Regions from separate parts of the Homo sapiens genome. Here region 1 is linked to region 2. The links come from fine-mapping of genetic effects on gene expression. A gene starts in region 2. The other region holds a variant in brackets. All regions are shown on one strand. Distances are between the middles of the regions.

Region 1 (9,089 bases), 79 kb before region 2:
GAGCAGAAGAGAGAGTGTAGTTACAAACCAACTTGGAAATTTAGTGTATGAAGAGTGCTACCTTCATTATATACTACACTTCTAATCAGTGACTAGAGGGTTGTACTGTTTAAAGACATTAGAATAATTGGTTATCTGTTTGTCAGTTGGTATGGGATAGGTTTAGCCTTTCCTTATGCCATATACGACAATATATTTCAGGTGGACTTGTGCTAAATTTTATAAACCAAACAACACTAAAAATGTTTGCAAAAACTGTCGAAAAATATACTTAATCTTAGAGTGGGAAAGACCTTCCTAAGCAAGACACAACACCTAGAGTCGATAAAGGAAAGGACCGATAAGATTTACTGCATAATTTTTAAAACTGATATAATTGCAGACCCATAGACAAAATGTAAAAGTAAGTCACAGACTGGGAAGATTTTATTTGCAATATATATGCCAAAGTATCAAAATTGCTAACATGCAAAATAGTCAGCAAATAAACATAAAAAAGACAAACAGTCCAAGAGAAAATTGGGCAAAGGATATGAGTATGAATTCTCAGAAAAAAAATACAGTTGTCTAATAAACATTTGAAAAGATGATCAACGGCATTTGGATTTTGAGAAATACAAGTTATAGCACCAAAGAGATCCTAGACTGTTAAAAAGCATCAAAGAACCCATCAGATTGTTAAAAAATTAAAATGATGGATAATACTCAGTGTTGGCAAGTGCTTAGGGAAATAGGCACCTTTATATATTGTTAGGGAGGATGTAAATTGGCACAGCCTTTTTGGAGATATTTTGGCAGAATGCATCAGAATTAAAAATAGAAATACCAGCAGTGCTATTTCTACAAATTATGCTATAGATCTGTTCACACATGAGTGCTCTGATTTATGTGCAGAGATATGCATCACATCATTTTTTTCCAGTAGTGAAAAATTGAAGACAACATAAATATTCATCAATAGTGAATTGGATAAATAGATTATGCTATATCATACTTTGTAATAACACATTGCAGTTAAAAAGAATGAGGTAAATTTATATCTACCAACATAGAAAGATACAGAAGGTATGTTGTTCAGTGAAAATACAAAGAAAATACACATACTGCTATCCCTTTTGTGTAAAATGGGAAAAAAGCATAAAACATATACATATGTGTATGTAAAATCTTATATGCATATAAATATGTGTTTAAGTAAATGAATAGTTACTTACTGGCTGTGTGACTTCAGGCAAGATACTTAACCGCCTCAGCATTTTTTTTCATTGTGTGGAAAATAGAGATAATTTTACATGACCCCTAGGGTGGTATGATGTGAAAATTAAATAAATTAATCTATTTAAATTGCTTTAAATAGCGCCTGGCACATAGTAGGCACTTGAGTGTTTCTATTGTTCAGATGCATATTAAACTTGGAAAATTATTTTCTGGGCCAGGAGTGAGACTTAAGTCATAAGGGGGACTATAATTGTCCATATTATATACTTCATATTTTTATAATGTGTGCCTATGTATTGAATGATTAATTTTTTTTAAATTAAATGCTTATTCTAAGAATATGAGTTAAAAGATGATTATAGAAATCCAGGAACAAAGTAAAAGAGTCCTGAGCAAGGGCAGTGGAATTGGGAATGGAAAAGAGGTGCTACGTTTGGTGTTGGTTATGGGAAGCAAGACAGAGGGAGAAGGCTGAGGCAGCTCTCAGTTTTGGCTTTTGAGTGACTTGGAAAATGCTGAACCATGAAAAGAAATAGTGGAATTAGGAGAAGCTTTTTGTGGGGTTTAGTATTTTGGAATGAAGGAGGATTAGTGTCTTACTTGAGGCTGCTAAAACAGAATACCATAAACTATGTGGCTTAAACAACAGACTTTGGTTTCTCACAGTTCTGGAGGCTGGGAAGTCCAAGATCAAGGTACTGGTGGATTTGATTCCTGTTGAGTGTCCTCTTCGTGGTTTGCAGACAGCCACCTTCTCAATGTGTCTTCACATGGTGGAAAAAGAGATTGTCTCCCTGTGTCTCTTCTTATAATGACACTAATTCCATTTATTAGAGTTCCACCTTCATGACCAAATCACCTCTCATAGGACTCACATCTAAATACATGAGGGATTAGAGTGTTAACATCTAAATTTGCAGGAGACATAATCAATTTGTAACAATTTTGTTAGATTACATTGAGTTTAAGCTGAGGGCAACCCATCAAGTAGGAAATATTGAATAGACTGGATATGAAAACTGGAGCTCTGGAGAAAGTTGAACGTTCTACCACTTTGAAGTAGACCAGCAGAAGAAGCCTAAAGTTCTCAGTGTCATTTTAAGAGTTCCCATCTAATACTTGCATTACAAAAATCAAGAACTGTGGTATTATAGGATGATATGTGTCTAGGAGGACAAAGACCTGTTCTAGTGGTTTTGATTGTTGATTCTTTTTCTTTGGTAAACATACATTGAACAACTACCATGTGCCAGGCACTGCCCAGACTATCAAGGGTAAAAAAACTCAAGTTTCTCTCTCTCTGGTAGGAACAGAGATTCACAAAATTGAGTACGTTACAGAGTGCTCAGTCCTCCGATAGCCATATGCACAGGGTGCAGTAATGGTGTGAAGATGGGTGTGATCCAGTCTGCTTGGGGTTGTGGTGGATGTCAGGGAAGATATTATAAAAAATGAGGTGATTGAAACTGAGTCTTCAAAGAGGAGGAACAGTCTTCCAGACAGATGTGAGGGTGGAGACAGGAGAAAGGCATTCCAAAAAGAGAAACCATTGCAGCATACCAAGTCATATTAGTATGGAAAACGAACCTTTTTTTTTTCATTTTGAGAACTCTAAGTACTTATTGTAAAATGTAAGCTGAGAGGGGAGGCTGGGGGATAATAGTAACTGATGTTGCAAAAATGGACGGGAATCAGATCACAGATGGCTTTTAGTCTCTTCTTTAGACAAGAGAGAACTTTAAGGGGTTTTGCCTTCAAGAAAAATTATAATTGCTCTGTTGGTGGTGTAGCTGATTGGCAGAAAGGCAGCAGGGATGGTTACACGTAGACAAGTGAGGGATTATTAACATATCAAATAGTCCTGGCTGCATCATCCTGATACCAAAGCCTGGCAGAAACACAACAAAAAAAGAGAATTTTAGACCAATATCCCTGATGAACATTGATGTGAAAATCCTCAATAAAATACTGGCAATCCAAATCCAGCAGCACATCAAAAAGCTTACCCACCATGATCAAGTCAGCTTCATCCCTGGGATGCAAGGCTGGTTCAACATACACAAATCAATAAACGTAATCCATCACATGAACAGATCCAACGACAAAAACCACATGATTATCTCAATAGATGCAGAGAAGGCCTTTGACAAAATTCAACACCCCTTCAAGCTAAAAACTCTCAATAAACTAGGTATTGATGGAAGGTATCTCAAAATAATAAGAGCTATTTATGACAAACCCACAGCCAATATCATACTGAATGGGCAAAAACTGGAAGCATTCCCTTATAAAACTGGCACCAGACAAGGATGCCCTCTCTCATCACTCCTATTCAACATTGTATTGGAAGTTCTGGCCAGGGCAATCAGGCAGGAGAAGGAAATAAAGGGTATTCAATTAGGAAAAGAGGAAGTCAAATTGTCCCTGTTTGCAGATGACAAGATTGTATACTTAGAAAACCCCATCTTCTCAGCCCCAAAACTCTTAAGCTGATAAGCAACTTCAGCAAAGTCTCAGGATACAAAATCAATGTGCAAAAATCATAAGCATTCCTATTCTCCACCAATAACAGACAGAGAGCCAAAACATGAGTGAACTCCCATTCACAATTGCTTCAAAGAGAATAAAATACCTAGGAATCCAACTTACAAGGGATGTGAAGGACCTCTTCAAGGAGAACTGCAAAGCACTGCTCAAGGAAATAAAAGAGGACACAAACAAATGTAAAAACATTCCTTGCTCATGGATAGGAAGAATCAATATCGTGAAAATGGCCATACTGCCTGAAGTAATTTATAGATTCAATGCCATCCCCATCAAGCTACCAATGACTTTCTTCACAGAATTGGAGAAAACTAAAGTTCATATGGAACCAAAAAAGAGCCCGCATTGCCAAGACAATCCTAAGCCAAAAGAACAAAGCTGGAGGCATAACGCTACCTGACTTCAAACTATACTACAAAGATACAGTAACCAAAACAGCATGGTACTGGTACCAAATCAGATATATAGACCAATGAAACAGAACAGAGGCCTCAGAAATAACACCACGCATCTACAACCATCTGATCTTTGACAAACCTGACAAAAACAAGAAATGGGGAAAAGATTCCCTATTTAATAAGTGGTATTGGGAAAACTGGCTAGCCATGTGTAGAAAGCTGAAACTGGATCCCTTCCTTACACCTTTTACAAAAATTAATTCAAGATGGATTAAAAGACTTAAACATAAGACCTAAAACCATAAAAACCCTAGAAGAAAACCTAGGCAATACCATTCAGGACATAGGTATGGGCAGGGACTTCATGACTAAAACACCAAAAGCAATGGCAACAAAAGCCCAAATAGACAAATGGGATCTAATTAAACTCAAGAGCTTCTGCACAGCAAAAGAAACTATCATCAGAGTGAACAGGCAACCTACAGAATGGGAGAAAAATTTTTGCAGTCTACCCATCTGACAAAGGGCTAATATCCAGAATCTACAAAGAACTCAAACAAATTTACAAGAAAAAAATAACCCCCTCAAAAAGTGGGCAAAGGATATGAACAGACACTTCTCAAAAGAAGACATTTACGCAGCCAACAGACACATGAAAAAATGTTCATCATCGCTGGTCATCAGAGAAATGCAAATCAAAACCACAATGAGATACCATCTCACATCAGTCAGAATGGCGATCATTAAAAAGTCAGGAAACAAAAGATGCTGGAGAGGATGTGGAGAATTAGGAAA[G/A]CTTTTACCCTGTTGGTGAGAGTGTAGATTAGTTTAACCATTGTGGAAGACAGTGTGGCGATTCCTCGAGGATCTAGAACTAGAAATACCATTTGACCCAGCAATCCCATTACTGGTATATACCCAAAGGATTATAAATCATGCTACTATAAAGACACATGCACATGTATGTTTATTGTGGCGTTATTCACAATAGCAAAGACTTGGAACCAACCCAAATAAGCATTGATGATAGACTGGATTAAGAAAATGTGGCACATATATACCATGGAATACTATGCAGCCATAAAAAGGATGAGTTCATGTCCTTTGCAGGGACATGAATGAAGCTGGAAATCATCATTCTCAGCAAACTATCACAAGGACAGAAAACCAAACACCGCATGTTCTCACTCATAGGTGGGAATTGAACAATAAGAACACTTGGACACAGAGCAGGGAACATCACACACTGGTGCCTGTCAGAGGGTGGGGAGCTGGGGGAGGGATAGCATTAGGAGAAATACCTAACGTAAATGATGAGTTGATGGGTGCAGCAAACCAACATGGCACATGTATACCTATGTAACAAACCTGCACATTGTGCACATGTACCCTAGAACTTAAACTCTAATAAAAAAAACAAAATAACTAAATAAATAAATAAACAAACAAATAGTCCTGGCTACAGAGGATAAACTATCTGAACTAAGCCAAGAGCAGTGGGAATGGAAAGTGAGGCATACATTTGAGAGCTATTAAAGAGACAGAGTGGATAGACCTTAGTAGCTGATTAAATTTGGAAGATAAAGTTTTAGGGAGAGGAGCCTTGACTCACTCCACATTTCTGGCTTAAGAGACTGGATGGCCAGTTTTGTCTCCCCAAAACTGTTTTTATCAAATCAATCTTCCTTCAATTTACTGTTATGTAGCCAATTCTATTACTGTGGTTCAGATCTCCATTATATCTTACCTTGACTACTGAAAAAGCCTCTTCACTGTGCACTCTTGAAATTATCTGCTACAGCCAGAGTGATCTTTCTAAAATGCAAATCAAATCATCGTTCTCCCTTACTTAAAACCCTTCACTGCCTCTGCATCTCCTACAGGATTACAGTTGACCTTTAACATGACATATGTCGATCTGCATGGTCTGATTTTTGTTTCCACATGCCTTGTCACTTCCTGCCTGGGATTTTGAACTTCAGCAATATCTCTCATTTCTTGTAGTTTCTTACACAGACAAGATGGTTTTTGCTGTATTTTTACTCATGCTTTCCTGTCTTATCTCCTTGGCTCCCCCAACACACACACACACACACACACACACACACACACACACACACACAAAATCTCTGTCCCCATCCCTCCCTAACCTCTTCTTTTGCTCTGTTTACAGCTATTCTTACTTTGAACCTCAGCTTAGGTCTGCAGCTCTAGAAAACGTTCTTAGACTCCTCAGACTGGATTCATTTGCCCATTTTTGTTTTTGTAGCATGCTGGACATATGATTTCTAGAGTTGGGCAACTTTGTTTCATGACTTTGTTTATTTTTCTGTTTTTGACTGTGATTTTTATTCAGAATAGACATATCATCATTATCTTTATATCTCCAATACTCAGCACATTTCTTATTATACAGTAGGTATTTATGGATTTATGGAGCAAATAAATTAATAAATGAGTAGGTGGATGATGGTAACCATTAATTAAACTAGTGGATTAGGCCGGGTGTTGTGGCTCACCCCTGTAATCCCAGCACTTTTGGAGGCCGAGGCGGGCGGATCACCTGAGGTCAGGAGTTCGAGACCTGCCCAGCCAACATGGTGAAACCCTGTCTCTGCTAAAATACAAAAATTAGCTGGGCATGGTGGCAGGTGCCTGTAATCCCAGCTACTAGGGAGGCTGAGGCAGAAGAATTGCTTAGCCCAGGAGGCAGAGGTTGTAGTGGGCTGAGACTGCACCACTGCACTCCAGCCTGGGTGACAGAGCGAGATTCCGTCTCAAAAAAAAAAAAAATGAATAAACTAGTGGATTATGAAGAACAGGTTTATGGGGAAATATAAGTTCTTATTTGTACATTTTGCAGTTGAGATCACTGTGAGTCACATAGGGATGGCAATCTAAAGGCAGCTGAGTATCCCAATCTGGATTTCACGTGATATGTCTGATTTTAAGATAGAGATTTAAGGGTTTTCAGCTCATAGCTGGTAGTACATATGGTACATATGCCGTTTACAATCACCCAGGAAGAAGATATAAAGAAGAGCACCAAGGTACAATGTATGGCAGTGTTTTTGACCACAACTCATATACCTATATATATACATTCATATGTAGCTGATACAAAGATTTCATGAAACAATACATGGTTTTTTTAGAGGGTGATACCCTCGGCTATTTTCTTTTCTATTCTGTCATATCCTATTCTATCATCTCTTTTCTCTGCTATTTAATAATATAAAAGTACTGCTAACCTTCTGGCTTGCAATCTGATAAGTGTCACTCTTTGGAACACTGATATTTAAGAAGGAAGAGGAGGAGCTGGTGAAAGAGATTGAGAAGGAGGGACTGAGGGATAGGAGGTGAATGAGAAGAGAGTGGCATGCCCCAGAAGCAAGAGGAGTCAGCATTTCTAAGGGTGAAGATGGGGTCACTAGTGTGGAATGCTGCAGAAACGTGAAGTGAAACTATTGAATTTGACAATTAGCAACAAGCCATTAGTGACTTTAGTGAGGACATTTAACAGTTGCTAGAGTGGAGTCAGTTGAGGAATGGATGGGGTAAAGGGGAAAGAACCAAAGCATTAACTATTCTTCCTAAAAATAAAGACCGTTCGGTGCTAGTCTACTAAAGATTTTCTCTTTCTTTATCACACTTATTTCTTATAATGACTTTACAAGATAGATATTATTACTTCTGTAAATTTTTTTTTTTTTGAGATGGAATCTCACACTGTCACCTGGGCTGGAGTGCAGTGGCACGATCTCGGCTCACTGCAACCTCTGCCTCCCAGGTTCAAGCGATTCTCCTGCCTCAGCCTCCCAAGTAGCTGGGATTACAGGCGTCCACCACCACACCTGGCTAATTTTTTGTATTTTTAGTAGAGATGGGGTTTCACTGTATTGGCCAGGCTGGTCTCGAACTCCTAACCTAGTGATCTGCCCGCCTTGGCCTCCCAAAGTGCTGGGATTACAAGTGTGAGCTACTGCGCCCGGCCACTTCTATGGATTTTTAAAATCAGATAAGTAATTTGAATCTCAGAGATCATTTAGGTGCCTTTAGGTGTCCATCATCATACACAGCTGAGATTCAAACCCTGGGTATCCCAACTTGAAAGTCTATAGTTTTCTAATTGGATCATAACTGTTTGTCTATTTTTGTGATATTGGATACATGATTTAATTTCTGTGGTTCTGAGTTTATTAATCTATGTAATTACAGATGGAGAGGCTTGACAAAAATTACAGACTACAGAAATATAGAGTATAAAGAGCAAACATTCACCCACTTAGCATTATCGGTTTGATCTTCAAATTAGTTTTTCTCTAAATTTATAAAAGTAATAAGAATATGTGACAAAAATTCAGCTGATCCATGAATAAAAGAGACTTGATTATTTTAAAACCCTTTTCCATTTTGAGCATTCTGTGATTCCAATAAGAGGTTATTTGATGCTTTTGATTTTCTAGTTTACCAGTTAAGAATAAATGCAAAGCATTCTGCTCTTCCCTTCCCTGCACTCTTTGTGTAAAGATTATGTTGGGGATTCCCCTCAATAAAATAATGGCAAAGCAAATCCAGCAGCACCTCAAAAAGGTTATTCACCACGATCAAGTCGGCTTCATCCTTGAGATGGATTCAACATATGCAAATCAATAAACATAATCCATCACATAAACAGACCCAATGACAAAAACCATATGATTATCTGAATAGATGCAGACAAGGCCTTCGATAAAATTCAACATCCCTTCAAGCTACAAACACTCAATAAACTAGGTACTGATGGAACATATCTCAAAATAATAAGAGCTATTTATGACAAACCCACAGCCAATATCACACTGAGTGGGCAAAAGCTGCAAGCATTCCCTTTGAAAACTGGCACAAGACAAGGGTGCTCTCTCTCACCACTCCTATTCAACATAGTAT
Region 2 (9,089 bases):
ACATTGCTTATTAGTTTAAATGCCAGAGATTAGATATTAAAGCAGTGGTTCTCTAAGTGTTGTGTCAAGACCAACAGCATCAGAATCACCCAGGAACCTGTCAGAAATGCTGGGGGTGAGGCCTAAAATCCGTATTTTTCACAAGCTTCCCCCAGGAAATTCTAATGCATGCTAAAGTTTGGAAACCACTGTTTAAAGGATACATTTTTTAAAATTAGCATTTAATTGCATTGAGGTGTTTGCTTTTACTTGTGATTTCTTTACAAAAGTTCTGAAATTGAGGCATCACTAAACAAGTCTGAACAATTCTTTATATGATGTATTTCTAAAGTATACCTTTTTAAGAAATCTATGGACAAGATATGAAAGTCTTCAGAGTCATAGATTTTCTCCTTATTCTTAAAACTGTTCAATGCAGTACTTATTAGATACCTTTCGTTTGCTCATAAACATTTATTGACCAAATCATTGTATTAAAAACCAATTAGTGGTTTCTTACAAGACTAAACATACTCTTATTATATCTTATTATACAACACAGCAATTGCATTCCTTGATATTTACCCAAAGTTGAAAAATTAAGTCCACATAAAAACATGCACACAGATATTTATAGAAGGTTTATTCGTAATTGCCAAAACTTGGAAGCAACCAACGTGTTCTTCAGTAGGTGAATGGATAAACAGATAAATGGAGACAATGGAATATTTTTTAGTGCTAAAAAGAAATGAGCCATCAAGCCATGAAAAACCATGGAGGAATCTTAAATGCAGATTACCAAGTGAAAGAAGACAATCTGAAAAGGCTATATACTGTATGACTTCAACTATATGAAATTCCAGAAACAGCAAAACTATAGAGACAGTAAAAAGATCAGTGGTTGCCAGGATTTGTCGGGAGAGAGATGACTAGACAGAGCACAGAGGATTTTAGGGCAGGGAAACCACCCTGTATGATACTGTGAGGGTGGATACTCATTATACATTTGTCCAAACCCACAGAATGTACAACACCAAGTGTACCCTAGTGGCAACTCTGGAGTCTGGGTGATAATGATGTGTCATGCTCAGTCCACCCTGGTGGGAATGTTGATAATGGGGAGGCTGTGCATGTGTGAGGGAAAAGGGTATATGGAAACCTGTACCTTCAGCTCAATTTTACTGTGAGCCTAAAACTGCTTTAAAAAATAAAGTCTACTAAAAAGAAAAAAACTGGAAAAAAAATGCAAAGTGACATGCTTTTGTGTGTGTTCTTTCTCATTCATCAAATTCGGTATTTATTTGATAACTTGCTTTTTTCTCCATTCGCTCTTGTTTAAATGCTTATTAGCTGGTTATTATTCATCGGGGCATAAACCTGTATATTTCTTATTTTTTTTCTCTCCTGTTTTTCCATTTTATTCTTTTCTAGGCATACTTTTAGAAAGAGATCTTCAGCTTTATCACTCTATTAGCTTTAAAACTTTTCTGCTATCACATTTAGAAAATATATTTATAAAATCTCTTCTGTAATTTGTTCATTTTTTACAAGTATTAGCACTGTCTTTTTGTTTCATGGATGCAATGTCTTTTCTTATCTCTCTGATGACCATATATATTTCTTCTTCTACCCTCTGCTTTGTCCTTAAGTTCCTTCTTCTGATTTGTTTTCTGTTTTTTTTTTAAGTTGGAGGCTTTTCTGAATGTTATTTATGTCTGTTTACTCATATTTAAGAAAGAAATGTCCATACATGTATACACACAAAACTGACTTGAATTCTTTTTGCGTTGGCCTGGTTTATTTATGAGTTAGTTTAATTATAGGATTGGCACGAAAGGGCCTGAGTCTTTGTATTGGAAAACTCAAAATGTCAGTAACGGTGAGAGTTTTTCCCTTCTTGGGCCAGTTGCTACAGTAGGAGCCTCCAGTCTTCTGCTTATGGCATAAACCTTGCTGTCAGTACTCTAGAAGTCAGGGAGGAAAGGGCTTGGGGATCCCACTTTTCTCCGTGAGACTGTTAACAAACCTCCTTTTTCAGCACAGTTGCCTCCTTTCCCTTCTGTGTCTTGTGTCACCAAGTTGGGTATCTCTCTGATTAAATTTCTTGGTAAAACAAAGCTGGACGATGAGTACTTGTCTCTCTGCCCCAGGTGCAGCAGTGTACCTGCTCCTCATTGAGACCACTTCCCAGCTTAATCACTTAACTCACCTTTTACAGGACCTGAAGCCTCAAATCAGTACGCCTCTCTGGGGTTGGTGCTTGTTGGGTTCTTCCTCAACAGGGAGCTTTCTCTCGTTTACTCAGTAGGTTACCAAATTCATACACTTCACATCTTTTTAATTCTTACATATTGTTCTCTTTGGTGTTCTTTCGCCTTGTGTGATCCACTCATTCATGCATTCACTCATTCAACGAATATTTTCTGAACACCTTCTCTGTGCCTGGCACTGTGTCAGGTGAAGTGGATGCAGTGAGCCAGTGGGCAGAAATCTCTTCCCTCATGTGCCTTACATTTTAGGAGCATGAGGCAGAGAATAAACAAACAAATGACATATACCGTATGTCAGATGATGGTCAGTAACACGTGTGGGAAAAGATAATGTGGGGAAGAGGTAGAGAACATGCTGGTCAGAGAAGCCCCACAGATAAGGTGCTATTTGAGCTGAAAGCTGGCAAAAGTGTAGAAACAAGCCTTGCAGTAGAAAGTGAAGGAGGTCCTGCAGCTCTGGGCTGATTACCTGGGCATGGTTAGGTGCTCTTCCTCTGCTCCTTGAGCATCTTGAGCATGCTTTAATTATAACACTTATCATCATGTCCTATTGTGATTATTAAATCACATGTCTGTTTTCATGACTTGGCAGAGCCGCTCAACATCTGGAACTTTGTCTTACTAACTTTTATATTCTCAGAATCTAATACATCATATTAGATGTTCAGTGCATAATTGTTAATTCAATGAATAAGAAAGGAAAACCTCAAGTAAATTGCTGACTAGAATCAAGCCCTCAAGCTCTGAATTTAGGGTTAGGAGCCTGGGTTAGGAAGAAAGACTGTATATATGCTTTTGAGGCAAGCAGTCAGTGAGGGAATGAGGCATGATTACTTGCAGGTGGCTACAAGCAATAAAAATGCGGTCAAAAAGGTTAGCAGAGGGATTGCCCCACTAGTAGATAGGAACTGTTACAACAGCCTGTGACAATGAAGACAGATTGCAAACTTCCTACTTAGGCACAGATGAGAATGTAACACAGAAGAAACTGGCCGCAACTGGTTAAAGCCAAGATGGTCGAAAACTTGGCTGACTGCTGACCCTTAGCTTCATTATGCCCTTAATATCATAAAACTTCCATGGGGAAATTCCCACTCCCATCATGCACCTGACGCCATGACAGTTCCGGATTAACCATCTTTAGTCAAGAAAAGGGTGGCACCCCGATTCCGGGAATTGCCCGCCCATTTCCCAGAAAACCCCTCCCCTTGATTACAGAGTACTCCATACCTTCATTGTGCTTATTCATATAGTACGTGAACCACATTGCCTGTGACTCAAATCTTTGAGTGCCTGCACTCCTCCCTTGAGGGTGTCGTTGGTTTTGCTCCACAATAAAATGTCTATACTTTCGCTTGGGTCTCATTTTCAGATTCTCTTATGCTTTGAAGACAAGAACCTGCACTGCCCTACTGGCAACACTTTTAGATACCCTCTGAGATCAGTGTGCTTGTTTATACCAGAAAAATGTCATCACCAGGCCCCTTAGTCACAAAGTGTATCAAGAAGTCATCTGCGGTCATTTTTTACAGTTTCTAGGCCACTTTCTGTTTCCAATCAGTGTAGTTCCTATGTGGCATGACTCAGATACAAGTTTCTATAGACATTTTCTTCTGTGGCTGCTAGTGAGAACCCAAACCAGCTCAGCCAATTAGAGCTCCAGTTGTCACTCCTACCCACACTGGGCCTGGGGGTGAAGGGAAGTGTTTATTAGGGGTACATGTGAAGCCGTCCAGAAGTGTCAGAGTCTTTGTAGCTTTGAAAGTCACCTAGGTTATTTGGGCATGCTCTCCTGAGTCCTCTGCTAGTTAAGCTCTCTGAAAAGAAGGTGGCAGACCCGGTTTGCTGATCGCCCCAGGGATCAGGAGGTAAGCACCATAGAGGAGCTGGGTTAGAGACGAGAGACTTAACCGTTTCTCTGCTGAAAAAGACAACTGAGGAAAGGCCAGCCATGCTGTGCACACCTCTGAGAACCTGAACCTGCAAACATGGACATCAGCTCTGAAAGGATGGGTTCATTTCTCTTTTATTCACTTTAGCCATGTCCTCTGGTGTCTCTGAGCTGGTGTTCCTTAAGCTTCGGCTTCCTTTGGGGTTTGTCTATCAGCCTATTTGTAAGGCTGACTTTTATGCCAATAGCAAATACAAGCATTTTTTAAGTTAACAGATATTATGAAGTAAAATGCAAGTTTTTCATTTATAAGGCAACATAACTTCAGAGAAAAAACTGAGTCAATCACATAAAATGTGATTAAAATGTGATTGTTATTATATAAGAGGGTTATAGGAAGATTAGCTTCTTATGGACAAGTAGAAAAGTAGGAATCATCCAAGCTGATTGTCACAGTAGATATTCAACAAAGGTAGTGTCCTTCCTTGCTTTCATCAGTAGGATGGGGGCATTTGGATGGCTTTATCATTGCAAATATTTTTAATGTATTCCTTATTTTGAAAATGGTCCTGATAATAGTTTTAATTTTCACTCATGAACTCTACATGTATAAGTAGAGTTTCTCCAGCGCTTACCAACATATAGGAAAAAACATTATAAGGCCATTAACAGTGATAGTTTAGAATTTATTAACATTGACTCTACTGATGGGGGTATTCAAGCTTCCCTAAAATTCACAATCAGTTATTTTCAGCTCATAAACATCTTTTCCTGTTCTTTGGCTTATTTCTTCCACTTTATATGTTGCTGCTCTGGAAGTCATTAATTGCTAATAATGTCAAACATCTTTTTTATGTTTATTGGATATTTGAGCAAATTGCTCATTCACATCTTTTGCACACTTTTCAAATAGACTGTTGTTTTCTTATTGATACATGGTTCTCCATGTATTCCAAAAGCAAAACCTCTATTAGCTCTCTCTCTCTCTCTCTCTCTCTATATATATATATATAGCAGGTATAGCCATATATATATGTGTGTGTGTGTGTGTGTGTGTGTGTGTGTGTGTGTGTGTATTGCAGGTATCTGCCCAGTTTTTGCCTTGTATAATCACTTTGTTTAGTGTGTGTGTGTGCACGGATGTGTGTGTTTCCTACAAAGAAATTGAGAATATGCATGCAATCACATTTGACAAATTTTTTTTTTCTGGCTTGTCCTTTTTGTGCCTTATTTAAGGAACCTCCTTCTACTTCAATGTATTGAGAAATTCTGTGTTTTATTCAACATCATTACTATTCTATTTAGATAATTAATCCAACCAGATATATATTTTGTGTATGATATAAGAGAAAGGCTGAATATATCATTCCCTGTGTATTGTCATTTGTCTGAACACTTTTTATAGTTGGCCATTCTTTCCTTGTGATTTTTAATGCCACTTTGATTATATACCAAGCTTTAATTTACATGTGGTCCTGTTTCCACACTCTATTTATTAGTTCATTTTTTTCTACGCCACTGCCATACTGATTTAATAATTATACATTTGTAGTAAGTATTGATACCTAGTAGTAGGGATAGTACATCCTGATAAACATATTCAACTTGTTTTGCAGGTTTTTGTCTTTATTTTTTTCATTTAGGTTTTAGGATCATTCTGATAAATTCTATGAAAAACCCTTTGAGATTTTGGATAGGAGTTTATAGATTAATTTGACAACACTGCTGTCTTCATTTTATCAAATCTTCCCATTTAAAATATCAGACATACACCCACTTAAGTAGGTCCTTTAAATCTCCCAATAAAGTTTTATAAGTTTCCCTTTAAAACTCTTAAATATATTGTATTCGATGTTCTTATGTACTTTGTAGTTTTGTTGCTATTGGAAATTACTTTTTTTATGTAATTTTTTTCTCTCTTGGAGTGGTACTAAAATAAAGGAATGCATTTCTGTATATTAATCTTATAGTTATAAACTGTTGAATTATTATTTATAATGTTTTGTGTATTATTTTGGATACTATACATAAACAACTATATTACTACAACGTGATTTTGGCAACAAGTTACAAAAATAGGTTGATGGACAGAATAAAGAATCCAGAAATAGACTCACTCATATTTGGACAACTGATTTTTGCAAAGGTAAAAAAAAAAATCATTAAAAATGACAGTCTTTTTAACATATGATTCTGGGAAAATTCATATTCATATGAAAAATAAATGAACTTTGAATCATCACTTATATCATATACAAATTAACTCAAAGCAGTACATACAGCCAAATGTGAAATGATCAAACCGTAAAATTCTTACAGGAAGACATAAAATCTTCTAATCTTGAGATTGGAAAAGATTTCTTAAATAAGACACTGAAAGCATGATCCATGAAAGAACAGATTGATTAATTGCACTTCATCAGGTATATGTATATGCCAAAATTTATCAGATTGTATACTTCCAGTGTATGCACCGTGTTGTATGCCAGTTATGCCTCGATAAATCTATTTTAAAAATAACAGGAAAATGTATCCTGTTTCCTTTTTGTTGTTGTTGTTGTTGTTGTTTTGAGATGAAGTTTCGCTCCTGTTGCCCAGGCTGGAGTGCAATGGCGCGATCTTGGCTCACTGCAACCTCCACCTCCCAGGTTCAAATAATTCTCCTGCCTCAGCCTCCTGAGTAGTTGGGATTACAGGCGCCCACCACCATGCTCGGCTAATTTTTGTACTTTTAGTAGAGATGGGGTTTTGCCATATTGGCCAGTCTGGTCTCAAACTCCTGACCGCAGGTGATCCGCCCACCTTGGCCTTCCAAAGTGCTGGGATTATTACAGGCGTGAGCTACCGCGCCCAGCTAATGTATCTTGTTTTCTGAGAATTCCAGAGGTGTTGTATACTTTCTGAAGATGTCTTTCCCAGGAGTAGTGATCACCTTGCTTAAGAAGTTCTTACCTATGTCCTACTCAAATCTCTTTTACTACTGCAAATATTTTATTTTTCTTTAAAAAATATTAATAGCTCACCTTGCTTTATTTTGAATGTAGAATCACTTTTGGTGGTGTAATCTTACATGTTTTGGATTCCTTATAGGCTGATCCCAAAGTTGTCAGATGGAGAGTAAATACAAGGAGATACTCTTGCTAACAGGCCTGGATAACATCACTGATGAGGAACTGGATAGGTTTAAGTTCTTTCTTTCAGACGAGTTTAATATTGCCACAGGCAAACTACATACTGCAAACAGAATACAAGTAGCTACCTTGATGATTCAAAATGCTGGGGCGGTGTCTGCAGTGATGAAGACCATTCGTATTTTTCAGAAGTTGAATTATATGCTTTTGGCAAAACGTCTTCAGGAGGAGAAGGAGAAAGGTAATGTGGGAGTTCCACACCTGCCCCGTCCCTTTTTCTGCCAAGCCTGGGCCTTTCCTTTCATGGCATCCCTGGGATATGACCCCCAGTGCACATTGTTGGAATTTGTTTGCTAACTTAGTGCACCTGTCTCTTTGCCCCCTTTTACTGAGAATCGCTTCTAGGAAGTGTTTGTTACAAATTCCACAAATCCATTCCAGCCTTTGTTTGCATCTCTTCTTCCAGCCTTAGGGTTACCACTTCCATTTAACATCTTTTCTCCTTGCCCATCTTTGTCTCCAGTTCAGTTGCAGTGAATATGGACGTAGAATTTCAAAGTTAACTTCTCCCAACTCCATTTACACAGTATGTAATGCTGTCACATTCTACTGAAGTCTTGAAAGTATAAATTATTGCATTGGAAAACTGTAAACCAGGATATTGAGCACCTTTTTTCCTTCACACAGTCTGTCTATTCCTCTCCTTGTCCCCAGCTTTCTGTGGTCCCAGACTATCCTTCTTTAGGCGATGATCTCCTCCTTCTTCAGAAGGGAGGGAGAATCCACCTTCAGGGATTTTCTTTCCTCTCTATCTCCAGTACAGGTGACAGTATAAATTACCCACAACACAAAGATTTTTTTTACATTATTCAATAAATCACTCATCTCCATCTGAATTATCTACATTTAGTTTAAATTCCTGATTTTGTTTACTAAGAACAATTGATATGTCCCAGCTTTATGTCTGAAGAACAAAAAGGAGCTAACAGAGGAGCATATCACTCAAGGACTCTCCAAAATGAAAGTCTCCAAATGCAACAGTTTTAGGATTCAAAGTACAACAGTAGCAGCAAAAATTATAATAGCTTTTAGTAGCATTTGTGGGTGTACAACAAGGGTGACATGGCTTCTCACACATGAGTTATAGGAAGGCTAAATGAAGCCACATAAGTGATACTATGTACATTCATAATTCTATACAGATATAAACTGTTAGGTAGTTTCTAAGGCACTAAAGAGAAAGGAGTGGTGGTTTTCCCAGGCTTTAAGTTAGAAGGTGTAGTTCTTAGAGATGGCCCTTAGATGGCAGTAACTACACATGTTACTTCCAAGTAACCAACCAAAACATTGCCCTGTGTTTTTCTTATCTGGGATGAGCCAGGAATCTAGGCATATTGGCAAACATAGGCTGAGATATTTAGAAATATCTTTTATTTTGGTAATAAATCAAGAATTAATTCTTCTCTTTGACCAGGATAGAACAAAATTTCCCCTTCTACAATCTTCTCCCCATTTTGCTATTCTAATGATTCTGGGATTTTGTTATTCTGCTTAGCTAAAAAAGATCCAGTTTGGGACTAGCTTGGAAACTCAGGAGTAGATTATCCAAGGACTCTCCCAAATGAGAGTCTCCAAATGTAACAGTTGTAGGATTCAAAGTATGCTTTTGGGCCAGGCGCAGTGGCTCACGCCTTTAATCCCAGCACTTTGGGAGGCCAAGGCGGGTGGATCACTTGAGTTCAGGAGTTCGAGATCAGCCTGGCCAACATAGTGAAACTTTGTCTCTACTAAAAATACAAAAATTAGCCAGGCATGGTG

What was found. PIP is the estimated chance that this variant, and not a neighbour inherited with it, causes the effect.
Region 1: its variant is fine-mapped to the expression of AIM2 in whole blood (TOPMed, PIP above 0.99).

Annotation. Positions count from the first base shown.
Region 1 is chr1:159,150,744-159,159,832 of GRCh38, reverse strand. No RefSeq gene overlaps it. Among named protein-coding and RNA genes, the nearest start is that of TRR-TCT4-1, 14 kb to the right of the region's middle. The variant G/A (reference allele first, on the strand shown) is at 4,956.
Region 2 is chr1:159,071,661-159,080,749 of GRCh38, reverse strand. It overlaps AIM2 (absent in melanoma 2), which reads left to right and starts at 3,984. Exons shown (of 6, transcript NM_004833.3): 1 at 3,984-4,117; 2 at 7,231-7,512. The coding sequence starts at 7,251. RefSeq lists an enhancer at 3,243-3,542.